Linked DNA regions of Homo sapiens. Changing the gene in region 1 together with any one later gene gives a genetic interaction. Each region holds a gene or a part of one and is shown in the gene's direction. Other genes may lie near its edges.

Evidence for each region.
Region 2: changes in ERBB2 (region 1) and GRK2 together harm fitness less than expected from each alone (positive genetic interaction), as found in Homo sapiens cells (one large-scale study listed by BioGRID).
Region 3: changes in ERBB2 (region 1) and CDC25A together harm fitness more than expected from each alone (negative genetic interaction), as found in Homo sapiens cells (one large-scale study listed by BioGRID).
Region 4: changes in ERBB2 (region 1) and CAMK2G together harm fitness more than expected from each alone (negative genetic interaction), as found in Homo sapiens cells (one large-scale study listed by BioGRID).
Region 5: changes in ERBB2 (region 1) and TOP1 together harm fitness more than expected from each alone (negative genetic interaction), as found in Homo sapiens cells (one large-scale study listed by BioGRID).

Annotation. Positions count from the first base shown.
Region 1 is NC_000017.11:39,711,854-39,717,990, forward strand, and holds part of ERBB2 (receptor tyrosine-protein kinase erbB-2 isoform a precursor), read left to right. Parts: intron 1-74; coding exon 75-194; intron 195-468; coding exon 469-595; intron 596-1,299; coding exon of another isoform or gene 1,300-1,416; intron 1,417-3,432; coding exon 3,433-3,506; intron 3,507-3,592; coding exon 3,593-3,683; intron 3,684-3,865; coding exon of another isoform or gene 3,866-3,886; coding exon 3,887-4,086; intron 4,087-4,417; coding exon of another isoform or gene 4,418-4,447; coding exon 4,448-4,580; intron 4,581-4,661; coding exon 4,662-4,752; intron 4,753-5,213; coding exon of another isoform or gene 5,214-5,315; intron 5,316-5,466; coding exon 5,467-5,627; coding exon of another isoform or gene 5,628-5,631; exon of another isoform or gene 5,632-5,804; intron 5,805-6,137. UniProt on the Homo sapiens protein: Protein tyrosine kinase that is part of several cell surface receptor complexes, but that apparently needs a coreceptor for ligand binding. Essential component of a neuregulin-receptor complex, although neuregulins do not interact with it alone.
Region 2 is NC_000011.10:67,268,167-67,274,303, forward strand, and holds part of GRK2 (beta-adrenergic receptor kinase 1), read left to right. Parts: intron 1-6,137. UniProt on the Homo sapiens protein: Specifically phosphorylates the agonist-occupied form of the beta-adrenergic and closely related receptors, probably inducing a desensitization of them. Key regulator of LPAR1 signaling.
Region 3 is NC_000003.12:48,167,078-48,173,214, reverse strand, and holds part of CDC25A (M-phase inducer phosphatase 1), read left to right. Parts: intron 1-5,270; coding exon 5,271-5,369; intron 5,370-6,137. UniProt on the Homo sapiens protein: Tyrosine protein phosphatase which functions as a dosage-dependent inducer of mitotic progression. Directly dephosphorylates CDK1 and stimulates its kinase activity. Also dephosphorylates CDK2 in complex with cyclin-E, in vitro.
Region 4 is NC_000010.11:73,814,500-73,820,636, reverse strand, and holds part of CAMK2G (calcium/calmodulin-dependent protein kinase type II subunit gamma), read left to right. Parts: intron 1-991; coding exon 992-1,105; intron 1,106-1,741; exon of another isoform or gene 1,742-2,369; coding exon of another isoform or gene 2,370-2,428; intron 2,429-3,082; coding exon 3,083-3,158; intron 3,159-3,519; coding exon 3,520-3,614; coding exon of another isoform or gene 3,615-3,928; exon of another isoform or gene 3,929-4,770; intron 4,771-5,389; coding exon 5,390-5,622; 3' UTR 5,623-5,634; intron 5,635-6,131; coding exon of another isoform or gene 6,132-6,137.
Region 5 is NC_000020.11:41,117,692-41,123,828, forward strand, and holds part of TOP1 (DNA topoisomerase 1), read left to right. Parts: intron 1-477; coding exon 478-605; intron 606-4,004; coding exon 4,005-4,099; intron 4,100-4,314; coding exon 4,315-4,464; intron 4,465-5,503; coding exon 5,504-5,606; 3' UTR 5,607-6,137. UniProt on the Homo sapiens protein: Releases the supercoiling and torsional tension of DNA introduced during the DNA replication and transcription by transiently cleaving and rejoining one strand of the DNA duplex.

The DNA of each region.
Region 1 (6,137 bases):
TGGGCACGGTAATGCTGCTCATGGTGGTGCACGAAGGGCCAGGGTATGTGGCTACATGTTCCTGATCTCCTTAGACAACTACCTTTCTACGGACGTGGGATCCTGCACCCTCGTCTGCCCCCTGCACAACCAAGAGGTGACAGCAGAGGATGGAACACAGCGGTGTGAGAAGTGCAGCAAGCCCTGTGCCCGAGGTACCCACTCACTGCCCCCGAGGCCAGCTGCAGTTCCTGTCCCTCTGCGCATGCAGCCTGGCCCAGCCCACCCTGTCCTATCCTTCCTCAGACCCTCTTGGGACCTAGTCTCTGCCTTCTACTCTCTACCCCTGGCCCCCCTCAGCCCTACAAGTGTCCCTATATCCCCTGTCAGTGTGGGGAGGGGCCCGGACCCTGATGCTCATGTGGCTGTTGACCTGTCCCGGTATGAAGGCTGAGACGGCCCCTTCCCCACCCACCCCCACCTCCTCAGTGTGCTATGGTCTGGGCATGGAGCACTTGCGAGAGGTGAGGGCAGTTACCAGTGCCAATATCCAGGAGTTTGCTGGCTGCAAGAAGATCTTTGGGAGCCTGGCATTTCTGCCGGAGAGCTTTGATGGGTAAGAGTGGGCACGATGACCTGAGACAGTGTCAGGGCAGACAGAGTCCTGAGGATCCAGATGTGGCAGCATCTCTTGGGGATGGCAGGAGACAGAAGTGGGGGGATCAAGAATGCAAAGAAAGCAGATGGGAGACCAGAGGAGCAGGGCCTTTGGTGGGTGGGGGTGATTATTTTTGTAAATGACATGCTATCCGTGAACAAGGACTTGTATGGAGGTCAGACCATCTAGATAAAGTAAAATTCCCTTTGAGTTCATAGCAGCTTTATTCAAAATATCCCCAAATTGGAAATAACTCAAATGTGCATCACTAGGTGAAGGAATAAACAAGTGGCAGTGTATCCATTTGGTGAAGTTCTACTTAGCAACCAAAGGAAATGAACTACCGATACAACATAAATGAATCTCAGAAACATTACATTGAGCAAAAGAAGCCAGAGACAAGATTCCATACTGTCTGATCCCCTTTATGTGAGGCTCTGAACCGAAAAAACCACTCTGTGGTGGGAGAGATCAGAACGGTGGTTGCCCCAGGGTGGGGGGCTTCAAAAGGGAGGCACACAAGGACATTTCTGGGGTAATAGAAATGCTCTGTATAGTGATTGGGGTAGTGGATACATGAGCGAATCCATTTGTCAAAACTCATCAAACTGTGTGATAAGAGTCTGTGCATTTTATTTATTTCATTTTATTTTTTGAGATAGAGTCTCACTCTGTCAGCAGGCTGGAGTGCAGTGGTACGATCTTGGCTCACTGCAACCTCTGCCTCCTGGATTCAAGCAATTCTCCTGCCTCAGTCTCCTGAGTAGCTGGGACTACAGGTGTGTGCCACCATGCCCAGCTAATTTTTGTATTTTTAATAGAGATGGGGTTTCACCATGTTGGCAAGGATGGTCTCGATCTCTTGACGTCGTGATCCGCCCACCTCAGCCTCCCAAAGTGCTGGGATTACAGGCATGAGCCACCACACCCGGTGCATTTTATTGTATATAAGTTATACTTCAATAAGAAATGAATTGGGGCCAGGCACGGTGGCTCACGCCTGTAATCCCAGCACTTTGGGAGGCCGAGGCAGGCAGATCACTTGAGGTCAGGAGTTCAAGACCAGCCTGGCCAACATGGTGAAACCCCATCTCTACTAAAAAATATAAAAAATTAGCCAGGCTTCCTGGCATGCGCCTATCATCCCAGCTACTTGGGAGGCTGAGGCAGGAGAATTGCATGAACTCGGGAGGTGGAGGTTGTAGTGAGCTGAGATTTCGCTATTGCACTCCAGCCTGGGCGACAGAGTGAGACCCTGTCTCAAAAAGAAAAAAAAAAAAAAGGGTCAGGCGCCGTGGTGCACACCTGTAATCCCAGCACTTTGGGAGGCTGAAGCAGGAAGATTGCTTGAGCCCAGGAATTCAAGAACAGCGTGGGCAACATAGTGAGATCCCATCTCTACAAAAAAACACAAAAAATTAGCCGGGCATGGTGGTACGCACCTGTAGTCTCAGCTACTAGGGAGACTGAGGTGGGAGAATCACCTGAGCCTGGGAGGTGGAGGTTGCAGTGGGTTGAAATCATGTCACTGTACTCCAGCCTGGGTGACAGAATGAGACCCTGTCTCAAAAAAAAAAAAAAAAAAAAAATTCCCTTTCACACTTCCTTTACCTCCACTCCCCTTTCCAGAGGGGGCCATGGTTAACAGTGTGTGTGTTCACCTAGACCGTTTATGCATCTGTAGACACACACACAGTGAAGTGTGGTTTTCGTCGTTTTGGTGGGGAGGTTGGTTTCTGTAAATGGGAACATATAGGGAGCACTGTCTGCACCTTGCTTTGAGAGCCGGTCATGACAGTTCCCATTGAACTGCCTTGTTCTTTCAATAGCTGCAGAGCAGGTGGCGGCAAGGAGAGGCAGCTAAGAGCCCAGACTTGGGAGCCAGACTGCCTGGGTTTGAAACCCGGCTCTACCACTTACTAGGCATGTGACCCTTGTGCTGTGCCTCAGTTTCTTCATCTGTAAAGTGGGGGCAAGAACAGTCCCAACTTCATAAGATGGTTATACCACCATGCCTGGCCAGATGATTATAAAGTTTGAATGAGTTAATATTTGTAAAGCTCTTAGAACAGTGCCTGGCAGATACTAGGTGCTCCTAAATGTTGGTTTTTATTATGTGGCTGGGTGGCTCGGGGTTTTATTTAACAGCTCCCCTATTTACTAATAGACATTTAGATCATGTTCCATTTTCACTCTTACAAACAGTTCCACTTTGTGTGTGGCTCTGGGAACATGGGCCAGTGTCTCCCTAGGCCACATTCCTAGAAATAAGATTTCTTTTCTTTTTTTTTTTTTTTTGAGACAGAGTCTCGCTTTATCGCCAGGCTGGTGTGCAGTAGTGTGATCTCGGCTCACTGCAACCTCTGCCTCCCGGGTTCAAGTGATTCTCCTGCCTCAGCCTCTCGAGTAACTGGGACTATAGGCGCGCGGCACCACACCCAGCTAATTTTTGTATTTGTAGTAGAGATGGGGTTTCACCATGTTGGCCAGGATGGTCTCCATCTCTTGACTTCGTGATCCGCCCGCCTCGGCCTCCCAAAGTGCTGGGATTACAGGCGTGAGCCACTGAGCCCAGGCAGAAATAAGATTTCTAGATCAAAGGATATAAATACTGTTTTGATAGATGTTGCCGAACTAAGGCCTGGGCTTTGAAGCCCAGGATGGGAACAGCTGGGCTCGATGGGCAAAGGGTTTGAGTGAAGGCATTCATGGTGGGGAGTGGCTGGCATGGCCAGTGCTGGGAGTGATGTCCACCCTGTTCCTGGCCCTGCTGACTCCTCTCCTGACCCCTCCAGGGACCCAGCCTCCAACACTGCCCCGCTCCAGCCAGAGCAGCTCCAAGTGTTTGAGACTCTGGAAGAGATCACAGGTGGGCTCTGTCTCTGCATCCTGTTCTGCAGGGGCTGGGAGTCCTTGTCCTGTCCCCACTCCTTTAATCTCACCCTCTGCCTGCAGGTTACCTATACATCTCAGCATGGCCGGACAGCCTGCCTGACCTCAGCGTCTTCCAGAACCTGCAAGTAATCCGGGGACGAATTCTGCACAAGTGAGCACTGAGAAAGAGGGGGCCTGATGGGGAGGAGTCCCAGGGAGGAGTCCCTGTGGGAAGCTTTGGGCCTGAGGGAGTACTCCTGTAGCAGTAACCTTTCCATGAAAGTCTGCAGAGTGTGCTGGGGATGGAGGAAGATGAGAATAGCCTTTGCTGACCGGGAAGGGGTCCGTGGTAAGGTGCCCACCTTTCTCCCATAGTGGCGCCTACTCGCTGACCCTGCAAGGGCTGGGCATCAGCTGGCTGGGGCTGCGCTCACTGAGGGAACTGGGCAGTGGACTGGCCCTCATCCACCATAACACCCACCTCTGCTTCGTGCACACGGTGCCCTGGGACCAGCTCTTTCGGAACCCGCACCAAGCTCTGCTCCACACTGCCAACCGGCCAGAGGACGAGTGTGGTAAGACAGGGAGCCCAGTGTGCGCACTCCCCATCTGCCAGCACACAGCAGTGCCCAGGGGGCCCTGGCAGCAGCGTTCTTGGACTTGTGCAGACTGCCCGTCTCTGTGCACCCTTCTTGACTCAGCACAGCTCTGGCTGGCTTGGCCTCTTGGCATGGCTTCTCTAGCTGGGTCCTACCTGCCTTGGCATCCTTCCCTCCCCCTCTGTTTCTGAAATCTCAGAACTCTTCCTCTCCCTACATCGGCCCCACCTGTCCCCACCCCTCCAGCCCACAGCCATGCCCACAGCCAGTTCCCTGGTTCACTTGGACCTGGGGCCTCCCCTAAAAGTCCCCTGCGGTCCCTTCCTCCTCACTGCAGTGGGCGAGGGCCTGGCCTGCCACCAGCTGTGCGCCCGAGGGCACTGCTGGGGTCCAGGGCCCACCCAGTGTGTCAACTGCAGCCAGTTCCTTCGGGGCCAGGAGTGCGTGGAGGAATGCCGAGTACTGCAGGGGTATGAGGGGCGGAGGAGAGGGTGGCTGGAGGGGTGCATGGGGCTCCTCTCAGACCCCCTCACCACTGTCCCTTCTCTCAGGCTCCCCAGGGAGTATGTGAATGCCAGGCACTGTTTGCCGTGCCACCCTGAGTGTCAGCCCCAGAATGGCTCAGTGACCTGTTTTGGACCGGTGAGCTGCTGGCGGGCTCAGAGCTGGGTGGAGGGGGGCAGCGAGGGGGATTGCCAGGGACTTGGCAGGATGGCGAGATGCAGTAGGGTGTGCTATCTGGTAAAATATCCCTGGAGAGGGCTCAGCGCTCAGACCTGAACAGCAACAGAGTGGCAGAAAAGGGGCCTGGGGGACACTGGGGCCCTTCAGACTATGAAAAGGTTCTAAGGAGGTCTGTGTTGGTGGCTGTGACTGTGGCTGTGCTAGGGTGGTGAGCCCTGTGGGCTCAGGCGTCAGACTACCTGGATTCAGACCCAGCTCCTGCTTCCAACCTTGGTTTTTTATTCCTAAAATGGGTATTGTAATAATACCTACCTTGCTGGGGTGTGGCAAGAATGAAATTAAACAGGGCTTGGCACAGTGAAGCACGGGAAAGGCTTTCTACAGAGCAGTGACTGTTGTTACTCGCTGTTACACCTTAGGTAATGCGTTTTCCTCTCTGGGTGCCTCCCATTTTCTGGCTCAAGTCCCTGCCCAGGATCAAGCTTGGAGGAGGGCCCCGAGGGAGGGGCCACAGAGACTGGGTGAAGAGCAAGGGTGTTTGTCCCAGGAGCATGGCGAAAATTGCTGCTGGGTGGCCTTGGGAAGCACAAAGGGGACCCAACTAAGGGCCTGATCCTACTGCCCTGGGGGTGTCAGTGCCAGCCCCCCACAAATCTTTTCTGCCCCCCCCAGGAGGCTGACCAGTGTGTGGCCTGTGCCCACTATAAGGACCCTCCCTTCTGCGTGGCCCGCTGCCCCAGCGGTGTGAAACCTGACCTCTCCTACATGCCCATCTGGAAGTTTCCAGATGAGGAGGGCGCATGCCAGCCTTGCCCCATCAACTGCACCCACTCGTGAGTCCAACGGTCTTTTCTGCAGAAAGGAGGACTTTCCTTTCAGGGGTCTTTCTGGGGCTCTTACTATAAAAGGGGACCAACTCTCCCTTTGTCATATCTTGTTTCTGATGACAAAAATAACACATTGTTAAAATTGTAAAATTAAAACATGAAATATAAATTAATGCCCTAGCAGTTCTATCCCCACTGTTAATAATTTGAAATATTTTTCCTCTAGTTATTTTTGTCTGTGCACATTCTAATATGTATATATAAGTTAACATATATTAATATTATTCTCCAGTTATTTTTATCTGTGCACATTTTAACACACACACACACACACACACACACACACATATGTATTTTTAGACGGAGTTTCACTCTGTCGCCCAGGCTGGAGTGCAGTAGTACAATCTTGGCTCACTGCAGCCTCCACCTCCTGGGTTTAAGCAATTCTCCTGCTTCCGCCTCCTGAGTAGCTGGGATTACGGGAACGTGCTACCTTGCCTGGCTAATTTTTGTATT
Region 2 (6,137 bases), on another chromosome or scaffold:
CTGTGACTCTGCGGTGTCCCTCAGCCTTTGAAGCAGCCGTCTAAGCTCTGGCTGACGCTGCAGGGGTGCCCCATGCCCATGGCCCTCACCGCCCCCCTGTGCCATGCCCTGCTCACTGGGTGTTTGGATTGACTGAACGTCAGGCCTGGGAGAGGAAAATTGGTCTGCATTTTGAAAAGGCCGTTAGGGCCTTTTTTTTTCTAAGACATTTGCAATCAGATTTCTCAAAACAGGAACCAGACTGACTGTCAGCTGGGGGCTGTCCAGGGAGCAGTGACGGTTAGTACAGAAATGAGTTCAGAAATGACAAACCCACGAGGGAGGAAACGGGGGAGTCAGCCTCTAGGGCTCAAAACGGCTCTCCTTGGTGGCTGCAGCCTCGAGACCCTCCTGCAGGATGGAGTTCTGCAACTGTGAGGCGGGGCCTTTTCTGGAACTGTCTGCGTTCGGGTAATCTCCCCCCAGAATGCATTGCTTCTGATGGGGCGCCGCCTTGGCTCTGCAGGTGTCAGAACCCTGAGAAACGAGATGGTCTTCTTTTCCTGTCCCCTTTCCCATCCATGGTAGTGATGGCGGTGATAGCAATAATGATAGGAATTATTACTGACTTACCTATTTTGATATCTGTCATCTCAGTTCTTCCAGCAACCAACCTGTGAAGCTGGCAAGGCCATGCCTTGCATGTAGTAGTTGCTCAAGAAATACCAGGACTGTGTGGCACCCCCATGCAGTCCTGAGCAGAAACAAGGTTGGATAGGATTCTAGGAGGACAGCAGGAGGCCGAGCCAGGCAGCCCAGGTTTTCACATTGGGTCACCATCAGCAGCATGGCCTTCCGCAAATCGCCCACATCTGTGAAACGGACTGGAGGTGCGAGCGCCGAATGTCAGTGCGCTAAGGCCTGGGAAGGGCTACTGGCCACCCCTACATGGGGGTCCAGGCCTGGGGCATTAGGGAGCAGGCCACCCTTTGCATAACGCCTTGCCTTGCACACCCAGTGGGGCAGAGCACGCCGCCCCCCGCCCCCCGCCGCCCCAGTGGTGATCCTGACCATGTTTCATGTTTGCCTGACACTTTTCCACTTGCAGAGTGCTTTTTACTCTGTTTTGTCCTTTTGACAACTGTGAGAGGCAGGCCCAGCAGTTAGGATTCTCCCCTTTAGCAGTTGAAGTTATTGAGGCTCAGGGAGGGGAGGAGTCGTGTCCTCGTCACAGAAGAAAGCTGGAATGGGGCCTCGGGTTTCTGGACCACACAGGCCAGTGCTGTTTCTTTGCTGTGCTTTATCCCCTCCACCCACCCCTGCACACCACTGTTCTCGCCTCTGTCCACATTTTGCGGTGTGGGCTGACTGGCACCCCTTGTCTGGGGCCATCGGCTGTCACAGTTCACAAGGCTCAGCCCTCTTCCCGTTGGCTGGGATGGAGAACTGAGCTGCCGTGGCAAAGCTACTGCACCGAGGGGCAGCCCCACTCCAGGGTCCCGTCAGATGCAGGAGCCTGTCTTCCCCATACCCACAAGGTCAAGGTCAGAGTCAGGGAGAGGGGCTGTGGCTTGTCCCAGTGACAGGTTGCCACTGGGAATTGTTCATACCTTGAGGTGGCCCACCTTGGCAGCCCCTCCATGGCTGGTGCCTGGGGATGTGTCTTGGCCAAGAACTGGGGCTGGCATCACAGCTCTGAGTTCCAAAGGCTAGGGAATGGGAGTGGTTAGGCACAGTGCCACACTGAGTTGGCACAGGGGCCTCCCCTTCTGTCACCCTATAGAATCCAAGGAAACAGTCCCTTTCCCCGACCTTCTTGTAGAAGGAGGTAGCGTAAGGCAGCATTGTGTATCTGGAAGATGGGAGGTCTGGCTTCTCCCTCTACCACCAGCTCACATGGGACCCAGGCGAGTCCCTTAGCCCGACTGGACCTGCCTCAGTTTCCACCTCTGTAAAACGAGGCGGCTGCCCCTTCACTCTCAGGGTCTGTGGTCTGGGCCTTGCCCTGAAGGAACTGCTGTCTCCCTTTCCCAGCAGCCAGCAGTCTTGTAATTATCATCATTTGCTTAATATGACCACTGAGGCCTCGTGTAATTAATCTCTGGGCTCCTAGCTGAGGAGCCCTGCCTGGGCGCTCCCAGGAGGTTCCTCTGCCCTCCCCGGTGACAGTGGCAGCCCCAGCAGCAGATTGTCGGAGCTGGGTGCCTCTTGCAGCCTCCCGATTTCTTGGCTGTTTCCTGGTCCCTCCCCCACCGAGAGTTTCCTCCTTCCTGCCCCTTTCTGGCTTCCCTGTCTCCCCAGACCCTGCCCCTGTTCCTCCGCTGCCTCGTTCCTGTTAACTCTTCGCAGCCAGAACTTCCTGCCCTCGATTTGTGGGGGAAGGGGTGCAGCGGGAAGCTCTCTCCCTCCCTCCTTCCTTCACTCCTGCAGCACCAGCTGAAACCCTGCTGCTTCCAGCCTTTGTCCCTTACCCAGAACTTTCCACTTCAGTGGCAGCGTTCTCCCAACTCCTTTCCCTGCAAACAAGATGATCTTTCCTGCAGTCACTCCCTCTGGGCCTTTGAAGCACCGCCGTTCCCCAGGAATGGGTCTCTGGGATGTCTTTCCCGTCTGTTTTCCTTTCCAGAGCATGCGTTTCACTTATTTGCCATTAAGTCGCCCGCCTGCCGTTACCTGGGTAAATGGATTTGAAGGGAGTGTGAGCAATGCAGGTTGGAATCTGTGCAGGGGAACCTGGGCTGTTAACCCAGAATGAGGTGTCCTATTAATGCACAATCAATTCCTAGTAGTAAGTTCCCGGTGACGTCAGGTACAGGAGCGCTCCGCAGCCAGTGTTTCCTCCCCGTGCCTAGGTTGCACCCAGGTGGGCTTGGCAGAGGGACTGAGTGCTCAGGCTGGTGGGTTTGGGCTCCACGCGCTTGGCTGTTGCTTTCAGGGTATGCTCTTGCCTCGGAACACACAGTGGGAACCAAAAGCACAGTGTAGCCCTTGAGGATGCACAGCCTCCCTCACACCTGCCCCTTCTTCCTGGGCCCCTTCCCTACTCCCCGCCGGCTCCCCATGGGTCAGTTTCCACTGCTGGATGGAGCTATATTCACGTTATTTCTACTCTGCTGCAACTGAGATACTAAAAATGAGGTGTTTGACTGCAGCTTTTTTCTAAAACAGTAATATCCCTTCTCTGCTTTGCTGTTTACTGCAAAAGGACGCGTCTATGCTGGCAGAAGTGGGTTTTCTGGTATTAACATGTTGGCAGCTCTGTTCCCAGGTGGGGGCAATTTTCTGACTCTAGAGCCATTTCGTGTTTGGGATGGGGGATAACCCCCTCCTGGAAACCACAGGGCATGGAATTCTGGAAGTTTGTTCTTGGTGCATTCTAGCGTAATGCAGATTACGGTCTCCATGTCAGCAGTAAATTGCAGGGTGTGGGTGCTCATGTCATATTTGTGAAGAAGCCGTGACATTTGACAAGGCCGCCAGAGTGCCTCTTCCTGAGCATCCCCGCAAGGGAGCTGCTTTGTGGCCGACACGACGTTCCGGAGCCCAGGCTGCTGCAGACCCTGGCTGTGTGTGCGGGGCCAGCTGGCTTTTTCTCTCCCCTGCTCAGGGCTTACCTTGGACCTGCCGGTTTGGGCTGGCCTTTCCTATTTGATCTGTGGCCCCGTCCTTGTTCGCCCCAGGGAGAGTCATTGAGAAACATTAAGAAGCCCCAGGGGACTTCCTTCTGCTGCTGGCACCTTGGTGTCTGGTTTCCTGGAAATGCCACAGGGAGCACCTCGGCCACAGCCACAGGCCCTGCTGCACTGGTTGGTGAATGCTCGCTCATCTCCCAGGGGACGGTTCCCAGAGTGGCCGCACCAGACCTGCCAGGCCTGTAGCCTTCATGCCAGCTTGCACCGTCCTGGCGTGGCAAAGCTTTAGCATCACTGTCACATGAGGGGCACAGGAAGCATGGCCCCTGGCTGCCAGCTGCCAGCCAAGGCTGCCTCCCATCCTGGGTTCCAGGGAAGGGGGCTGCTCGTCTCCTACAGCTCCTGGTCAGGGACGGGAGGGCAGCCAGGCCAGAGGCTGGGCACAAGTCAGGGTCCTCTGAGCCCTGCACCCAGCTCTTCCACAGAGGTCAAGGGGGGGATGGAGGGTGCTCTAGTGGAGGCCGTTTCTCAGGGAGCCTTTGGACATTTTCTTTGCCACGAACTCATTGTGGGCCTCGGAGCACGTGGCCCAGCCAGCTTCCTTGCCATCAGCAAGAGTGTGTTTGTCTCTGACTTGTCACCCCCTCCTGTCCACACAGCTACAGCCTCTGACCCCGAGCAGGAGACACCTAAGAGAGCCCAGGCCACAGAGGATGGCCTGGACTTTGCATTTCTTCTGAACCATGAGGTGCCAGAAGGGACCGGAAGTGCTCCCTCAGCACCCACTCCTTCCCTGTCACCCAGTGCTCAGTGCTGCAGCTGCTCACTGTCTTGGGCTGAGCCTGCTCCGGGAGCAGTAGGAGCTGGTGCAGGCCGCTGTAACTGCAGGGGTGCCAAGGTGGGACTGACTGCTCCTTCCCAAAGCTGGGTGGGCACCAAGTACCTCTGTGCCAAGGAGCCCTTGATACTTTGGCAGGGCAAGCCACGGGCTCTACCCACTGGGCCCGCAGTAGAGCAATGCAGTGCCTGAAGCTGGTCTGTGAGCAGAGGAGTCCCACCCTGCTCGGCTCAGCCCTGGCCACAGGCCCCATCCTCCAAGGCCCCATCCTCTCCGAGGACACGGCAAATGTGGAGCAGAGGCTTGAGCAAGACCAGTTACTGTGTGATTCTAGCATGGACTGTCGGTGAGCCGTGGGGCACTGAGAAATGGGGCTCTGGCGGCTCTCTCCCATGGCCCAGCAGGCGGGGCACGGCGGGCAGCATGGCCAGCCTGGCATATTAGAAGCCCTCCTTCTGCCGTGTCCACCCAGGCTTTGTAAATGGCCAGTGTGACGGTGGCGATTCAGCATCTCATTGACATCCTCATTTTACAGCTGGGGAAACTGGACATTTCAAGTTTGTGACCAGGTGGTGAGGGCCACTTGGAACCCAGGCACCCGTCCAACGGCCAGAGCAAAGGCAACTCTGAGGCCCTTGCCCAAAGGTGTTGGGAACCTTAGCGTCCTTCCATCTGGGACTGTTGAGGCCGCTTGGTTCTCCTGATGCTCCAGAGTAGATCTTGGGAGCCACGTTCCCCCGGATCTCAGGGTTGCTGACCTGGGTGGGGGACAGGGACACGCTCTGGGCTCACTGCCACTCCAGACTCTGCCAGTATCAGGGAGCAGTGTTGGAGACAAGGTGACCCAGTCCAGGAGGCTGTCCCACCCCTGTGCTCGCCCGTGCTTGCCACCCTGGCAGGAGCTGCCCCCAGTGGCAAGTTCTTCCAACCTGCCAGTTCCCTTGGCGGCCAGACCCATGGGAATAGACAGGAAACCCTAAAATTGCCACTTTGGGGGCCTTCCATTCAAGGACTCTGCTCAGGCCTGACCTCGTGTTTGGTTTCTTGCTTGGGGGGAGGGGGGTTGTTTATTTTATTTAAAAAACATTTTTTTCTTTTTAAGGAAGAAAGTGGAGTGCTGTGGGCTGGGAAGAATGTGGTGGCCATGCCCAGGCGTGGCTGCTGAGGGGAGAGATGGCCTCAGAGCCCCGGGTCCTGCTTCCTGCTGTTCCCAGGCCGGGGCTGACAGCAGAGCCCCTGGGAAGGAGAAAGGGCCTGCCCGGCAGGTTCCCCTGGCTGTCGCAGGCAGGGAACCAAGCATGCTTCCCCCTTGGAGACTTTGTGTGTCCAGTTGAAAAGTGGCAGTGGCTACTCCCTGGCTCCTAGGTGGCCATTCCCTCTGCCAAACTGGCACCTTTTTTTTTTTTTTTTTTTTTGAGACAGAGTCTCACTCTGTCACCCAGGCTGGAGTGCAGTGGCACGATTTTGGCTCACTGCAACCTCTGTCTCCAGGGTTCAAGCGATTCTTCTGCCTCAGTCTCCTGAGTAGCTGGGACTACAGGCGCACGCCACCATGCTGGGCTAATTTTTGTATTTTCAGTAGAGACGGGGTTTCACCATGTTGGTCAGGCTGGTCTTAAACTCCTGACCTCATGATTCGCCCGCCTCGGCCTCCCAAAGTGCTGGGATTACAGGCGTGAGCCACCGCG
Region 3 (6,137 bases), on another chromosome or scaffold:
TTTTTGAGACGCTCTGTCGCCCAGGCTGGAGTGCAGTGGCGCGATCTCAGCTCACTGCAAGCTCTGCCTCCCGGGTTCATGCCATTCTCCTGCTTCAGCCTCCCAGTAGCTGGGACTACAGGACCCCGCCACCACGCCTGGCTAATTTTTTGTATTTTTAGTAGAGACGGGGTTTCACAGTGTTAGCTAGGATGGTCTCCATCTCCTGACCTTGTGATCCGCCCGCCTCAGCCTCCTAAAGTGCTGGAATTACAGGCGTGAGCCACTGCGCCCAGCCCTGTCTGTCTAATTCTTCAAGTTAATTCATTGCATTGCTCATAGTTGTATAGGCTGTTTTGTTGTTTCCTGTTTCTGAGACAGGGTCTCTCTGTCACCCAGGCTGGAGTGCAGTGGCATGATCTCCGCTCACTGCACTCTCCACCTCCCAGGCTCAAGCAGTCCTCCCACCTCAGGCTCTCAAGCAGCTGGGACTATAGGTGTGTGCCACCAAACCCAGCTAATTTTTGTATTTTTTGTAGAGACAGGCTTTCGCCATGTTGCGCAGGCTGGTCTCAAACTCCTGGGCTCAGGGCAATCCTCCCGCCTTGGCCTCCCAAAGTGCCAGGATCATAGGTGTTAGACACAGCACCTGGCATGGGTGAGCTAGTGTCATGGTTGTCTGGGCCTAAGTCCTATGGTCCTTTGTGTTATTTTTTCTATTTATTCTGTGGCTAGACACACAAAACACTGGTTTATTTGTATGTTTTTCCTTCATTATACTGTCCTTATATTGAGGTTTGGTATTAAGCATTATAAAATGGTGAACTACCTGTGTTTTCTGTGGCATGAAAAGGTTTAAGTAAATCTCATCACAGTCTTAAAAGGTTAGAGAGATGACAGCTAGGAAAACATTTAGCATTTAGGCCTACTGCCTTATCGTATCTGCTTTTGTTTTTAATGCTTTATGAATGTTTTTAAAGTATTGTTCTAAAAGAATATTTTAATAATTGCATAGTATTTTTGTTTTGGGAGAGTTGTTTGGTTTTGGTTTTTGTTCTTTTTGTTTGTGGGGGGCACAGGGTCTAGCGCTGTCACTCAGGCTGGAGTGCACTAGCACGATCACAGCTCAGTACAGCCTCCATGGGCTCAAGCACTCCTCCCGCCTCAGCCCCCCTAGCAGCTGGGACTACAGGCATGCACCACCATGCCCAGTTAATTTAAAAAAAATTTTTTTTTATTTTTTGTAGAAAAGAGGTCTTACTGTGTTGCCCAGGCTGGCCTTGAATTCCTGGGCTCAAGCAGTCCTCCCACCTCAGCCTCCAAAGTATCTGGGACTACAGGCACAGGCCAGTGCACCTGGCCGATAGTGTTTTGACTTACAAGTATACTAGAAATAATTGAATAAATCACCTTCTGGACATTTAGAATTTCCCTTCCCCTGATTTTCCTTTTATTTCTAATTAAAAATGAAATTCTGGGTTATAAGGGCAAGAACATTTGTGAAACTTTACATTGTATACATGTCAGAAAATATCTATCAATATTTAATAATATTCTGGCTGAGTGCTGTGGTTCACTCCTGTAATCCCAGCACTTTGGGAGGACAAGGCGGGTGGATCACGAGGTCAGGAGTTCCATACCAGCCTGGCCAATATGGTGAAACCCTGTCTCTACTGAAAATACAAAAAATAGCTGGGTGTGGTGGTATGAGCCTGTAATCCCAGCTGCTCAGGAGGCTGAGGCAGGAGAATCGCTTGAACCCGGGAAATGGAGGTTGCAGTGAGCAGAGATCACGCCACTGCACTCCAGCCTGGGTGATAGAGTGAGATTTCATCTCAAAAAAAAAAAAAAAAGAATATTCATTTTCTTTTTCTTTCTTTTTGAGACACGCTGGAGTGCAGTGGCAGGATCTTGGCTCACGGCAACCTCCGCCTCCCCAGTTCAAGCAAGTCTCTGCCTCAGCCTCCTGAGTAGCTGGGATTACAGGTGCCCACTGCCACGCCTGGCTAATTTTTTTTGTATTTTTAGTAGAGGCGGAGTTTCACCAAGTTGGCCAGGCTGGTCTTGAACTCCTGACCTCAGGTGATATATCCGCCTTGGCCTCCCAAAGTGCTGGGGTTACAGGTGTGAGCCACTGTGCCCGGCCAGAATATTCATTTTCTTTTACCGTAATAGAGATTGACCTTTTTATTTCCATATTTGTAAAACTTTTTTTGGATAAAATAATACTGTTAATAATTATTTTGTATATATATTGGCCCTCATGTTTTGGTTTATTTTCATATATTTTAATTTTTAGTATTTTAAATTCCATTGTGGAGAAAATGTCAAGCATTGCTAGAGTACAGTTATCATACCTGTGATATTGTGAAATATATATTTAGTCTTCTTCCCCTTCTGTCATATAACTCCTAAAATCTTTGGAATATCCAAGGTCATATCTTTTTGTATACTAATGATTGATAGCTTCAGGGTGGGACTGGTCACTGGAAAGACAGAGACATGATTAGAGGTTGGAACTTTCAGCCCCACCCTCCAATATCTACGGAAAGGAGAGGGGCTAAAGGTCAAGTTGATCACTCATGGCCAATGGTTTAATCAATCATTTCTATGTAATGAAGCCTCCCTAAAACCTTGAAAGGACAGGGTTCAGAGAGCTTCTGGATAGCTGAACACATGGAGGTTCCTGGAGGTTGGGGCACCCAAGGAGAGCATGGCAGCTCCATGTCCCTTCTCCCATACCTCACCCTATGCATGTCTTCTTCTATATCCTTTGAATATCCTTCATAATAAACTGGTAAATGTGTTTTCTTGAGTTCTGTGAGCCACTTCTAGCAAATTAAACCCAAAGAAGGGGTCATGGGAACCCCTACTTAAAGCTGGTGGTCGTAGATCAGAAGATCCAGAGGCCCAACTGGTGTCTGAAGGGTGGTGTGGTTTTGAGGACTGGGCCCTCAACTTCCTGATCTGACGCTCTGCAGGTAGATAGTGTCAGAATTGAATTGGACGGCACCCAGCTATTTTCCACTGCAGAACTGCTTGCTTGCTTGCTTGCTTGCTGGTAGGGAGAAATCCCCTCATATCTGGGGGTAACAGCACTTCTGTCTTCTGTTGCTGTTGAGTGAGGGAATAAGAAAAATCACTTTGAGTTTGTGGGGTGTTTTCCTCACACAAACATATCATACAGGGCTAAATTTCTGGGTGTTTTTTTGTTTGTTTTTTTTTTTGAGACCAAGTCTCGCTCTGTCGCCCAGACTGGAGTGCCATGGGTCGATCTCTGCTCACTGCAACCTCCGCCTCTCAGGTTCCAGCAATTCTCCCGCCTCAGCCTCCCAAGTAGCTGGGACTACAGGCGCCCACCACCACGCCTGGCTAATTTTTTATATTTTTAGTAGAGACGGGGTTTCACCATGTTGGCAAGGCTGGTCTCGAACCCCTGACATCAAGTGATCCACTCACCTCGGCCTCCCAAAGTGCTGGGATTACAGGCATGAGCCACCACGCCCGGCAGAGCTAAATTTCTTACTATCAAATGTCAAATATCCAGTCTGGGTTCAGTTTTCCCCAGTTGTCTCCTAAGTACTTTTACAGTTTATTTGTTAAAATCTGGATCCAAATAAAGTCTATACACTGTAGTTGGTCAATAGGTCTCTTACTCTTCAGATTTCAGTGCTCCATCTGTTTCCCTCTTGCATATTTTTATTTGTTGAAGAGCTCAAGTCATTTGTCCTGCAAAGGTTCCCACAGTCCTGTGGGGTCTTCAGACATTGTCTTCTATCCCCTATATTGCCTTAACCTAACTCTGGAAAGGATGGATTGAATTCCAGTTCTATTTGTTTGGCAAGAATATCACATAGGTGATTTTGTCTACTTTGATCAGGAAGTATAATGTGCCAGGCAGCCATTGGTGATTGCTGCCCAGATTTTTTACTTCATTTCACCAGGGTTTCAGAAAGATGATACTGCAGTTTTTACATTCTTTCCTCATTAATTAGCTAGAATATATCTATAAAGAGAAACTTACACTCATCAAACACTGTGGTTACCCTTGGGAAAGGCAGGATGAATATTGGATCTCTTTATTTGCCAGTTTCCAAATAATGCCCTACCAAGCATCTTCCAAAGTTGAAAGCAAGACTTATAGTTGTTTTTCAATAATAATCAGGAATTCATGGGTTAAAACATTTAATGTGTTTCTGTGTATTACAAGTATTATCCTTTTACTCAAATTATCCCCTTTTTAACAGCTGGCTTCCTCTTCTCATTGAATAAAGCTAAGACGTAGGCCGGGCGCGGTGGCTCACACCTGTAATCCCAGCACTTTGGGAGGCCAAGGCAGGCAGATCACCTGAGGCCAGGAGTTCAAGACCATCTGGCCAACATGGTGAAACCCCGTCTCTACTAAAAATACAAAAATTAGCTGGGCGTGGTGGCGCACACCTATAGTCTCAGCTGCTCTGGAGGCTGCGGCAGAATCGCTTGAACCTGGGAGGCAGAGGTTACAGTGAGCCAAGATCACTGTACTCCAGCCTGCACTCCACTCCTGTACTCCACTGCACTCCAGCCTGAGCGACAGAGCGAGACTCTGTCTTTTTAAAAAAAAAAAAAAAAAAAAGTTAAGACATACTTTTTCTAAACTTAATCCTAGTTTTAACCCCCCTTGTTTCTTTCTCTTTTTCTGGAGATAGTTTCAGTCTGTCACCCAGGCTGGAGTGCAGTGGCACCATCACCACTTGCTGTAGCCTCGACCTCCCCAGGCTCAGGTGATCCTCCCACTTCAGCCTCCCAAGTAGCTGGGACTACAGGCACACACCACCATGCCCAGCTTGTGTGTGTGTGTGTGTGTGTGTGTGTGTGTGTGTGTGTGTGTGTGTGGACAGGGTCTTGCTCTTTGATCTGGTCTGGAACTCCTGGGCTCAAGCGATTCACCTGCCTTGCCCAGGCTGGTCTGGAACTCCTGGGCTCAAGTGAGTAACCCACCTTGGCCTCCCAAAGTGCTGGGATTACAGGCATGAGCCAAACCACCTGCACCCCCTTTTTTTTTTTTTTTTTTTAAGGAAGGAAGGAAAACTTAGTTTCAGAGCAATTCGGTTAGACACTGGAATAATAGGAGACCTAGTCAATAACCCACATCTGTTTTTGTTCACTCCAGATTCAATAAAATAAAATAAAAACTTCTTACTAAATGTAGGCATTAACATTTTAGTCTCCTCGAGACATGCTCCAAGTGAATGTTTTCGGAAGTTCCATTCAGAACCCTTGTCTCATTCTCTACCTTTGATTTGTTACAGACTCTTCATCAGTCTTTATCCCTGGCATCTTCCCCCAAAGGAACCATTGAGAACATTTTGGACAATGACCCAAGGGACCTTATAGGAGACTTCTCCAAGGTAATTGCAAGCAGAGCTGCTCTGGCAAGTGTAGGAGGGAGTGTGGGTATTTAGAATCCCACTCAGCCTGTCTCCCTCCCCAGGGTGGTTCCTGGCATACCTCCAAAAGGACACAGTTAAAAGAATGTTAAAGGTAGGGAAGCAAACTTAGTTTCTCATGATCAGGTATATGTTGGTTTCTGAGACTGTAGATATCACTATAGCTGATGGGCAGTTTTAGGTAGGGAGCTGTCCACCAACCACCTTGATTGTAACCCAAAGACTAGGCTCTCTGGGAACTGTGTTATTATAAAAATAGTAATTAGCAGGATAGTGTACAGCAGAAATAAATCTGTAGCCACACTACAAGTCTGCATGTTGAAAGGTTATCTTAGAAGGTCTGGGATTGAGACTGAATTTCTCCGTTCAGAGAAGCTTGGCCATTGAGGGAAAAGACCCTCCAGGAAGTCTAGAGGAAGATCTTCTAATAGCCTGATATACTACATGAAGGCTTGGCTGCAGTAAAATACAAGGCTAGGACAGGGAATGTGTCAATAGCAGCTTCTTTAATCACATTTTGACTTGAAGGTTACCAGATCAATGTTTTATTCATTAATTTAGTTAACATTTATTGAAGCACTTATGTGTTAGGCAGAGATTCCAAAATGAGATACAGTTCCTTCCCTCAAAGAATTTAGCATGTGGTTGGAGAGGTGAGACGTGAACTACATGTACCACATGGTAGACTGAAATAAATTTTAGTGAGGTGTAAACATAAACAGCATGCCG
Region 4 (6,137 bases), on another chromosome or scaffold:
TAATCCCAGCTACTCGGGAGACTGAGGCATGAAAATGGCTTGAACCCGGGAGGTGGAGGTTGCAGTGAGCTGAGATTGCACCACTGCACTCCAGCCTGGGTGACAGAGCGAGACTCTGTCTCAAGAAAAAAAAAAAAAAAAAAATATATATATATATATATATATATATATAAATATAAAACCCAGATAGTCCTGGGAACACTGGGATGAGTTGGTCACTCTAGTCCTAAGATTTTGGCCTGAATGATGGAGTTGGAACTAATCTGACAACCGTGAGGCCACATTTGGTCATGTCCTGGTGGGCCCGTAAGGACCACTAGCCTAAGCTTGGGCCTGGCTAGAGTGCCAGGGCGGTGGGAGGGCATGGCAGGCTGGACCCCCGGGAATCTCTGTCCTGCTCTTTGATTGGGCCTCCTGGAATTGCTCCCTTTGCCTGAATTCAGTAAGTGACCTTGGGCCAGGACATCAGAAAAGACAGAGGAACACTCTAGGACAGAGCTGGGAGAGCATGCCCTGGGTGGCAAGGGGGCACCAAACCTTTTGGAACCAAAAAAAATAGCAGAAAGCTGCGAGGAAGTGAATCATAGTAGCTCCAGGCCCCTGTGAGTGAGGTCAGATCAGTTTTGATTCCGGCACTGCTGGCAACATAGGAGGCGCTGTCACTGCTGGGCTCTGGACCCTGTGGCCTGGCCCCCTGGAACATCTTCCCCGGGATCAGGGGTCCTTGGACAGGCTGTTGTAAGGCTCGTCTGGAAGCCACAGCCCAGGTCTGGGCACCTGCCTGGTGCCCTCAGCTGGGAGGCCTCTCTGGCAGAGGCGGCGGCGTGGGATGTCGTCCAGTGTCCACAGCAGCCTGAGGCGAGGCGTCCCCTTGCCCCGGCTCTGCAGCGCCATGGGCTCGGGGCCTGTCTGGCTTGCTCGCTCACCTGCCTTGTTCTGTTTGTTTTGGCTGCTCTGCCTTGCCCTGCCCTGCCCTGCCCTGGCTGGCTAGCTGCCCCGCTCCGCACTGGGAATGGCAGCTCGGTGCCTGAAGGACGGAGCTCCCGGGACAGAACAGCCCCCTCTGCAGGCATGCAGCCCCAGCCTTCTCTCTGCTCCTCAGCCAGTAAGTGTGAGGGAGGCACATTCTGGCTTCCGTCTCCCTGGCTCGTCCTGAAGCCCCTCAGGGACCCCCACCACAGCTGTCAGTCCCACCCACCTGCCCGTGGTAGTAAGCTCTGGGAGCATGGCCTCTGCTGGGGGTGGGGGGTAGACTGGAGGTGCTGTTGAGACCAGGCAGGGGCCCCTGAGTCTGGGGCCCAAAGAAATATGAGAAGTGTGGGTGGAAAAACATGGCCTGGGATGAGGGGAGTAGAAAGCCCCCAGGATGTGCAGTGGGCCTTGCCTCAGCGCTGAGCCAGGAAGAAGGGCAGAGTCGGAAGTCAGGTCTGTGGGGGTGGGAGTGGGATGATGGGGAAATCGTGACAGCGAGGAACTGTGTTGGGGATGTAGTGCTTCCTGAGTCTCAGCATAACAGTATTAAGAGCATGGGGTCAGAGGCAAGATAGATCTGAGTTTAAATCCCAGCTACACTGCCTTCAAGAGTGTGAAGTTTAACCTCCCAGAGCTGCAGGTTCCTTATCTGTAATGTGGAAATAAAATGGCACGCACCTCAGAGCCTTGTTAGATAAAAGACAAGGCAGTAGGAAGTCTTGATACGGTGCCTCGATGGGTTATCAGTAGCTCATCCTCATATTTCTAGTTACGTCTGTGCTGGAGGATGCCTTTGTCTGCTGCTTTTCCTCCCACCATCTATCCTTGCAGAGTTTCTAAGCACAACCCTCTTCGCCCGTGGGGCCCCAGTCAGGTCATCCAGATGGGTCTGGTGGGGTTGGAGAGGGTGTGTGTGTTGTGGGTGCACACCTGCCTGCTGCTTTTGGAAGCCGATCGAACTCCTTGCTTCCCTTAACCTGCTGCTTGCTCACCTGGAGCTGTGGCCTAGCGGGGCTGACGGCTGTGGGGCCCCCTCCTGGATGTGCCTTTGGCTGCGCTGCCCTGTCCCAACTGTGCTGCTTGGCTGTGCTGGCCCGGCTGGGCCGTGGTGGTGCTGTTCTAACGCTTGCAGTTGTCTTGCAGCCTTTTGCTCCTGTGAGGAAAGGGTTGTGGCCTGGCCCCGCCCAGGGCTCGGGTTAGGATGAGCCCAAGCTCAACCCAAGCTCTCCCTTACCCTGGTGGCAGCCCCTGCTGGTAGTGGCATTCCCTATAAGAGAAGCCCATGCCGGCAGGACATCACCAGCTGTCCCTTGGCTTTGGATGGGTTGGGGAGGAGGCCTCTGGAGGGCACCACCTCTGCCTGCCTGTCAGTCTGAGCCCTGTCTGGTTTTCCTGAGGAACACGTCCTGGCAATGAGAGCTGGTGTGAAATGTGCAGCTTTCCCAAGCCTCGAGAGGTAAATGGAGCAGCCTCTCTGGTACAGGCTGTCCCAAGTTTTTACAGTTCTGGGATCATTTCTCCCAGAAAAGCCCTGTGGAGTTGAGCAGTGGGAAGCATCCATCCTAGGGTTCTGATGGTCCTTTGGCACCCCAGCCCTAGCTGGATTCTGCTGTCAGGCTACCTGTCACCCAGGGCTGGGTCCTGGCCACTGAATGAGGGCTACGAGTGGGGGTGGTGATTGAGACCTGACTGAGCCCCTTCAGGTGAGAGAAGTAAATTGGGGGTGGAAGCGGCCTTATTGGGAGATGCTTGTGAGAGAGGCTGCTCATACAGGGGAGGGGCTCACAGCATTCACGATGTACCAGGCTCCTCACCTGTTAAAGGCAAGCGTGTTTTCTGCAACCTGGTTGTTGATGGAAAGGGAGGCAAAGGCCAAAGAACCATAACTAATGGCTGGGCTTCAGGAGAAAGTGGTCATTGTCTCTGCAGACTGCAGAGAGGGAGACGGGAGGGAAGGTGTGTTCGCTCTTCCTGCCAAGGGCCCTAGAGACAGAGAAGAGGGATGTCTTTGTCATAAGCGATCACAGGGGACTCCTGAGGACTGGGGAGGGCTCTCTGTAACTTGGGAGGTTCCCCAGTAGGTAAATTGATGGATTTTTCTCCCCCACAGTGCGAAAACAGGAGATCATTAAGATTACAGAACAGCTGATTGAAGCCATCAACAATGGGGACTTTGAGGCCTACACGTAAGTAGAGACCCATTTTTTTTTGTGACCTAAGTCATCTCCCAAGGCCTTCCCTGCTTCCAGACAACAATTAGGACCCTGGGGAAAGGGAGGTTGGACCTTGGGCAAAGTATCTGAGTTAAGCCCTCTCCTAAACTGGGAGCCCTTCCAGGTAGATTCCCTGAGCTCACCCATGGTATCCTGGCAGTGGGCCGAAAGCACAGGGCTGAGTGGCTCAGCAGGCAGGCCTGGAAGATCTTTGCTGTCTTGTCTGGCATGGCCACAGGTAGCCTGCTGCTACTGGATAGACACCGCTGATAAGGAAGGAAGACAAGTCACTCCATAGAAGCCTGATAGGCTGCTTTTTTTTTTCTCCCTGTAGGAAGATTTGTGATCCAGGCCTCACTTCCTTTGAGCCTGAGGCCCTTGGTAACCTCGTGGAGGGGATGGATTTCCATAAGTTTTACTTTGAGAATCGTGAGTGGGTTCGTGCTGCTGATATACTCCTGCCTGCCCCTTTACCCCTTTGTCTCTGTCTCCTGCTCACCTTCTCATCCCAGTTGCCCACTTTTCCCTTATTTGACCTTCGTGCTGCACTCCTACTCTGTATGCTTGTCCCCTTGTGCCCCGATGGTTGTAGACAGGCACCTTTGAAGGCCCTGCTCCTGAGCTCCAAGTGCCATTCATTCTGCAGCTGCTTTGTGGCAGTGCCAGTCACCACAATCAAGCTCACTTATTTCTTGCCGGGCGCGGTGGCTTACGCCTGTAATCCCAACACTTTGGGAGGCTGAGGCTGGCGGATCACGAGGTCAGGAGATCGAGGCCATCCTGGCTAACACGGTGAAACCCCATCTCTACTAAAAATACAAAAAATTAGCCGGGCGTGGTGGCGGTGCCTGTAGTCCCAGCTACTCGGGTGGCTGAGGCAGGAGAATGATGTGAACCTGGGAGGCAGAGCTTGCAGTGAGCCAAGATCAGGCCACTGCACTCCAGCCTGGGCAACAGAGCAAGACTCCATCTCAAAAAAAAAGAAAAAATTATTTAAGCCTCACCTCTTTCCAAGACGGATTGGAAGGAAACCCTTTGAGATTAGGTTGAGATGATCTCAGCACATAAGAACTAAGCTCTGTGTCTGCAGGTTTCACAATAGAGGAAATTAAAACCAGGATAAGAATGTGCAAACCAGGGCACTGTTGGTGATTTGCGAGATCGGAAGTTGTGGCTAGAATCTTCCTGACTATGGAGGAAGGCAGACGTCTTGTATAGGGGGTGGGGTGTACATTCTGGACAGTTCATGGAAAATAAGGGGATAAGAAGCTGAATCATCACCCCCTCCCATCTTTCTCTCTGCTCTATGAGACCCTCCCCTTCCTTATTTTTATCTCTTCCCACTTTATGCTGGGCCTTCCCTATCCTGCCCTGAGTTATAGTTAGTCACTAACTTCTCCGCTGGCTCCCACCCTTATCACATCTCAGCTACATATATAAACTCTCTGTTATCTAAGTAATTCTATTAGCCAGAAGCAATTCCAGAGTTTATATTAGTACTAGGAAGGTGTCATGTAGCCCCTGTCTAACATTTGAATTGAACTAAAATGTGAATCTCAATAAAAGCAACACAGTTTTCACAGCATATGCTGATAATGGCAATCCAACTTCTTTTGCCTTTTCCCCAGAGAATCCTGGGAATATCCTGAGCTTGGTGCTTTGATGATTCTATTTCAGCTTTGGTGCCTTAAAAAAAATTACAAATCAATTTTGAATGGTTTAAGTTCATGATTTTGTTCTGCAGCCCTAGCTAGGGGTGAGCCAAGCCTTATGAAATCTAAACTCAGCCTAACAGAATAGAAAATCTATAGGCTTTAGTTAAGAGTCACATGGTCCTGAGTTCAGGTGTGTGATTTGAGCAAATTATTCCTTGAGCCTATTTCCTCATCTTATAATGAAGAAAATATTATCCACCAAGAAATACAGCTCGGGCATGTAAAACCCCAGCACAATGCCTGATTAAAAGCGCAGCAGGTACTGTCACTGTTACCCATCTTTCTGTTCCTTTTGGATAAAGGAGACTAATGTAATGTGGCATCCTGGCCTCTGGAGGGCGTTCAGGGGTTCGGGGGTGGGGGGGGGCGGTACTTGGAGATTCTGGGAGTGGTTGCTTGGGAGATGGTAAGACTTGGAAGTGCAGGCTGGGAGGAAAATGCAGGTGCCCAGGCCTGATGTCCTCTTACCTACCCCACCCTGCCCTGCAGTCCTGTCCAAGAACAGCAAGCCTATCCATACCACCATCCTAAACCCACACGTCCACGTGATTGGGGAGGACGCAGCGTGCATCGCCTACATCCGCCTCACCCAGTACATCGACGGGCAGGGTCGGCCTCGCACCAGCCAGTCAGAAGAGACCCGGGTCTGGCACCGTCGGGATGGCAAGTGGCTCAATGTCCACTATCACTGCTCAGGGGCCCCTGCCGCACCGCTGCAGTGAGCTCAGCCACAGGTGCACCTGGTTGACGGGGGAGAGGGGCTGGAAGGGCCTGGGATAGGTGGGGTCAGAGGAAGAAGAGAAGGCTGGGAGGTGGTCCTGGGAGAGGAGGTGTGGGCCGTCCCAGAGGACTGGCAAAGCCTGGCAGAATGGTTGCAATAAGTTATGCTTGGAAATCAGACAGACTAGGGTCTGGCTCCGTGACTCCAAATTGGATGACCTCAGACAGGTTACTTCCCCTCCCTAAACTGTTTCCTTAGCTGTCAAAGAAAGGCAGAGAGTGGTGCCTACCTCATTTAATCATTGTGAGGATTAAGTAAGATACTATAAGTAAAGCACTTAGTTAGTGCTTAGCAAATGGGAGGCAGTTTTGTATTTAAGCATTAGCTTCACCCACTTTCCCCACCTTCTCAGGCCGACTTGGCCATGTGTTTAGCGTGCTAAAGTCGCTGGAACTCATCTGTGTGCTCATTGTCCTCTGTTCTGTTACCACATTCTGTCCTGTTTGACAGGGGCTT
Region 5 (6,137 bases), on another chromosome or scaffold:
TTAAACTTTTAACGTCCCTTCAATTCCTCGTTCTGTTCTGGCTACATTGGGTGGAGAGGTGGGGAGGTAGGAAGTGGCCAGTATAGAACTTATGAATATGGGCAACAAACCATAGTAATATCAGCAGCACCTATGATGAGCATATGGGTGGGGAGGAAGCAAGGAGATGAAGGGTCCCTAGCCAAGTTCCCTGAGTAAAAAGAAAGGTGTAGATTTTATTATATTACCTAGACTCAGAGTTCCTCTTGTGATAGGAATTTACCCAGGCCAAGCTTACATATAAACTTCCTACTATCATTTTCTTAAGACTGTTGACTCAAATTTTGACCTTAGTCCTTGGGGGCAATTTGAATTAATCATCTGAGTAAGATAAGAGCCAGCAAAATCATGGGGACGAGGCACTGGGGGAAGACATACTGTGTGTTCACTTTTGGTGTACAAACTGACCCTCTTGCTACCATGTTCCTTTCTTTACAGCGGATGAGAACATCCCAGCGAAGATCCTTTCTTATAACCGTGCCAATCGAGCTGTTGCAATTCTTTGTAACCATCAGAGGGCACCACCAAAAACTTTTGAGAAGTCTATGATGAACTTGCAAACTAAGGTATCTTGGATAAAATGAAGGGAACTGTGTCTGCTGTGGGCAGATTATCTGCGAATGAGAGGATTCAGGGCTGAGATATCAGCAGGCCAGTGCTGGGTCTGTTGTAGAAGGTCTATGCTAAAGATAAACAAATGGAAATATGATAGTAGTTAATCTCTGATCAAGATACTGAATATCAGAGTATCCATTATTCAAGAAATCTTTATTCTACGCATAGAAGTTCTATACTGGCCACTCCCTATTTTGAAAAACTAACTTTGGTGTACATTCTAATTGCTAATTACTGTCCTTATTGTACATGAGGAAAGTGGATTTAAAGAGAGTCTTCATAATTCCTTGCTACAGCCCAGAAATACAGCCATTTCCAAATTAGATTGTTTCAAATTGAAAAGATGATGAAACAATTATATATTTAAAGTCTTTCAAATCCTAGCATAGCTATTTTTATTTTTACGCATTCCACATGAATCATATTTTTATATAGTTCATCATCAAACATCTGTTGAATACTGGCCGTGTGCCAGACAACTTGCTGCCCTAAAGGGAAAGACTGGTGTGCAAATAGGTGCTATTCCTTGTCCCTGAGCCTCTTTCCTCCTCCTAACTCCGCCTGGTACTGAGCTTTTAAACCATAAGGCACTTAACATTTGATGATGAACATTTTTGTGTTAGCAGTGACTTCATAACTAATTCATCCTAACATGGTGGTCCACAGTGAGAATTTGCAGATATTTCATTATAGAACAGATACACAGGGTTAAAAAGGAAACAAATTATATTGAAATACAGTTATCAAAATACATTTTAAAGTCCGATAATAGATGTGCTTCCTTATTAAGGTCTTGAGGTGGCCTGTAGTAAATTTCAAGGTAGTAATTAATTAATATCAATGATACTTTAAGATTTCTGCAGCAATTCAAATATGAAATGAAGATGTCTAACATCTATTGATGATAAAGTCATAAGTGCTGCTGCTATTACTATGGTTTGTTCCCCATATTCATAACTGAAGAAGAAATACTAAATTTCAGCTAGAAGCTGGGTGCAGTGGCTCACACCTGTAATCTCAGCATTTTGGGAGGTTGAGGTGGGAGAATCACTTGAGCTGAGTAATTCAAGACCAACCTGGGCAACATAGTGAGACCCTGTCTGTATTAAAAATTTAAAAATAAATATAAATAAGTTCCAAAAAGAGGTTATTGAAATTATAGATTTTTTCTCATCCAAGTTCATGGAATTCTATACTTGTACAACTGGAGTTTAAGAACTACTACTGTGGAATGAGACTGCATTTTAAGGCCCAGAATATTTTCCATTTGTTGAGATTTCCTTAAGATAAGTACCCATGAGTAATATAGCTGGTTCAAAAGGTACACACAACTTATAATTTATGCTACAGATGCCATCTGGCTTTCTTGAAGAGACGTACATGTCCACAGTGAATGAGTATACATCCATAGACCTTTGATTCCTTGGATCATATGATTGGCAGGCAAAGAACTCTATAGACGGCCCATCCTAGCAGCTCACATTTGCTGCCACTCTGTTAAATGCTGGTCATCTGGAATTGTTTATTCTCCTCATGTTATCATTACAAGCCAGAAATAAAAGCATGAATATTCAGGTGCTGTTTACCTAATTCAGGAAAACCCCTCCCAGGAGCATGAGGAGGTCTTTTGTTGCTCTCGCTCTGGAACCGGGTTTGGGCAGCCCAGGCTGCCTGCCAGATGAGCCCTCCAAACCCAGGATTCCTCTCCTGTGTGCCCACAAAGCAAACACACGCCCCTGTTTGCCAAGTGAATCAATGGAGTCTTTGATGCTTTGAGAGAATTTGACATAGCCTGCCAATTTAGCATTCACAGAAATGGTTAAAAGATCATGGTTTGCTACATTTCTATCCTAAAAAGAATCTGGCTAGTGGTGTCTGTGATGCTTTTGTATATAGAATCAGTCCCCTCAGTTTGGCTTTGGACAACATAGATGTTGGAAGTAAGCCATTCATAGTAAAACATATTTAGTGATCCTCTCACAATGGTGGCCTCTGTTTCCAATCTTGGGCTGTGTGTATCTAACAACAAACAATTCCAGGTTCAGTGAGCAGCCCAGTGTGTGTCAGACATGTTATTTACTCCGTAGAGGTTGTCTTCACCTCACATAGATGACCATAGGTATGGGGTTCTCCTGCCCTCTGAGTAGCGTGAGCTCAGTGACAGGGGCTCTAGCTCCATGTTGTTATCCACTGCTGTCTCTAAGCAGGAATCTGAGAAGAACTTAGATTCACCAGGGGTGCTTCAAAGATTCTAACAAGCAAGAAAGGCTGAAACTGCCCTTGTCTCTTCCCTTATAGATATGGATTCCATGAGAGTTCACATGGGGAAAAAAGCTCCACAGCTAAAAGTGTTTTCACATCCATTGAGTGACAACTAAGGTCCTTCCCACCTCAGACTTCTCTCCTTTTTTTTTGAGACGGAGTCTCGCTCTGTTGCCCAGGCTGGAGTGCAGGGGCATGATCTCGGCTCACTGCAAGCTCTGCCTCCCGGGTTCATGCCATTCTACTGCCTCAGCCTCCCGAGTAGCTGGGACTACAGGCACCCACCACCACGCCTGGCTAATTTTTTGTATTTTTAGTAGAGACGGGGTTTCACCGTGTTAGCCAGGATGGTCTTGATCTCCTGACCTTGTGATCCGCCCTCCTCAGCCTCCCCAAAGTGCTGGGATTACAGGCGTGAGACACCGCGCCTGGTGACCGCTCTCCTTTTAAAAACAGAATGCCAAAGCTAAGCCCTGCCATGTCCTGGTTTGGGACAGACTGGCTGAGCTGTTTGGCTTCCTGGGTGTCTTTTAATTGCCAGTTTGTAGCCCCTTGAGTACTCTCTTCAGTGCATCCATTTTCCTTGAGAAGCTGGCACCGCCTTCCCAGAGTACTGGTGGGATCTGAGGAACGAGCTGGGGTTGCCCAGTAGATGCAAGTATCCTGCTTCAGTTTCCTAAAGAGGAGCTCCTACAGTGTTCTTAGAATGAAAGCTAAGAACTGGCACAGGATCTATTTGATAAACAGCTGTCATTTGTAGCCATCCTCCCAGATGTATGACAGCAGAGTGTTCTCTGATGGAAAGATCAGCACCCAGATTCCCAGCCCCAGCGGGTTCCTTTCCCTGAGCCCCTAGGTTACTGCCCTGTAAAACCCTTGTTTCTTTCCAGATCACTGAAGAACAAATAGTTGAATTCACTAGTCCTTGTGCATCTTCTCCCTGCCTTCATGAAGCCACCCTTGTTTTTTTTTATCTGACAAACCACTGACAGAGACAGCCTGGTCCAGATAACATCTTGGTTTCACCTTCTCAGGTGGAGCCATTTTTCCTCTACAGCTCATAACCTTACCACTATTATTTCCCCTAGATTGATGCCAAGAAGGAACAGCTAGCAGATGCCCGGAGAGACCTGAAAAGTGCTAAGGCTGATGCCAAGGTCATGAAGGATGCAAAGACGAAGAAGTATGTACCTGGTATTGTGAAAGTTGGGGCTGGTAGAGAAAAGTGTGCAGCATCTGTCAGGGCCCCTGGGGCCCTGGCTTTTCGATGGTTTCTGAGAAATGTCTTTTGGAAATCTCTATACTAGGGCTTTTATTGACTCAAAGTGGCAGGATGGGTACAGTGTGCTCTTGTCTAGAGCCCAGGCCTGGTTCTTGAGGACTTTGCTATTCTTCTAGGGTAGTAGAGTCAAAGAAGAAGGCTGTTCAGAGACTGGAGGAACAGTTGATGAAGCTGGAAGTTCAAGCCACAGACCGAGAGGAAAATAAACAGATTGCCCTGGGAACCTCCAAACTCAATTATCTGGACCCTAGGATCACAGTGGCTTGGTAAGTGTTGAGCCCTCCTTGAGCTCCTGCTGCTAGCTTAAGAAAGGTGGAGGGGGTTCCGAGAGCACTGGTGGCCTTCACATGCCATTCCTAAGCTACACACTTTAGTCCTCTGGGGAAACTTCTGGCTTCAGCTGTGTACAAGTTACTCTGGTTGCTGAACCTTGTCTGTAAATGCATTGCAACATTCTGGTTGCTCCTAAATGGTCAGTGCTGTTACACTGCCTTGTAGTGTATATTTTTAAGAGGCAGGTGCCATCCCTATTCCTAATGGAACTTTAGGACAGGAATGGAAACTCTTAGCTTCTGGAAGAATAGGAAAGAGCCCATCCATCTCTACACTTCAACAAAACTTTTCGTTGAATTTTTTTGCAGTTGAAGGTAGGAACAAGAGATAAAGATGAGAATACAGATCTGAGCAACTTACACAGAGAGGCAGAGGGACCTTTAACAAAAGCAGATAAATACTAGGTTTCTCTGTGTGTCACACACAGTGTCACATAACATCTGAAACAAGTGGCTTTGTTATGGAAGATGTTTAGTTTGAGCTGTTAAGTTCTGAGCATAGGTGGAGATATCCTCCCCTATGGCACTTGCTAGTCCGGGCTAAAGTTTCCATCTAGGTCTTTTGTACCTCTTTCTGCTCGTTTTGCCTTGTTTGGTGCTAGAGATTTGGTTAGCTCTTAAAAGGCAATATAGTATAGTGGTTAAGAACATGGAGAAAAACTGCTTGGGTTCAAATTTCAGGTCACTTACCAGCTAGCTGTGTGAGAAAATCAGTAAATTACCTAACGTCTCTGCCTCAGTTTCATCTGTACGTTTTTCACTTGTACATCTGCAGAAGCACCTACTTTAGAGATCACTGCCAAGATTAAATGAGTTGATCACATAAAACCTTTAGAACATGCTTGGTGCACTATTAATTTGCATCCTCACTAGACAGATGTGAAAGAGAAGATGGAACATCTGACCCTGGGCCTCAGATATGGGCCATTGCTGAGTCACCCTAATCCCCCCCTTATTTCTCCTTTGTTTGCAGGTGCAAGAAGTGGGGTGTCCCAATTGAGAAGATTTACAACAAAACCCAGCGGGAGAAGTTTGCCTGGGCCATTGACATGGCTGATGAAGACTATGAGTTTTAGCCAGTCTCAAGAGGCAGAGTTCTGTGAAGAGGAACAGTGTGGTTTGGGAAAGATGGATAAACTGAGCCTCACTTGCCCTCGTGCCTGGGGGAGAGAGGCAGCAAGTCTTAACAAACCAACATCTTTGCGAAAAGATAAACCTGGAGATATTATAAGGGAGAGCTGAGCCAGTTGTCCTATGGACAACTTATTTAAAAATATTTCAGATATCAAAATTCTAGCTGTATGATTTGTTTTGAATTTTGTTTTTATTTTCAAGAGGGCAAGTGGATGGGAATTTGTCAGCGTTCTACCAGGCAAATTCACTGTTTCACTGAAATGTTTGGATTCTCTTAGCTACTGTATGCAAAGTCCGATTATATTGGTGCGTTTTTACAGTTAGGGTTTTGCAATAACTTCTATATTTTAATAGAAATAAATTCCTAAACTCCCTTCCCTCTCTCCCATTTCAGGAATTTAAAATTAAGTAGAACAAAAAACCCAGCGCACCTGTTAGAGTCGTCACTCTCTATTGTCATGGGGATCAATTTT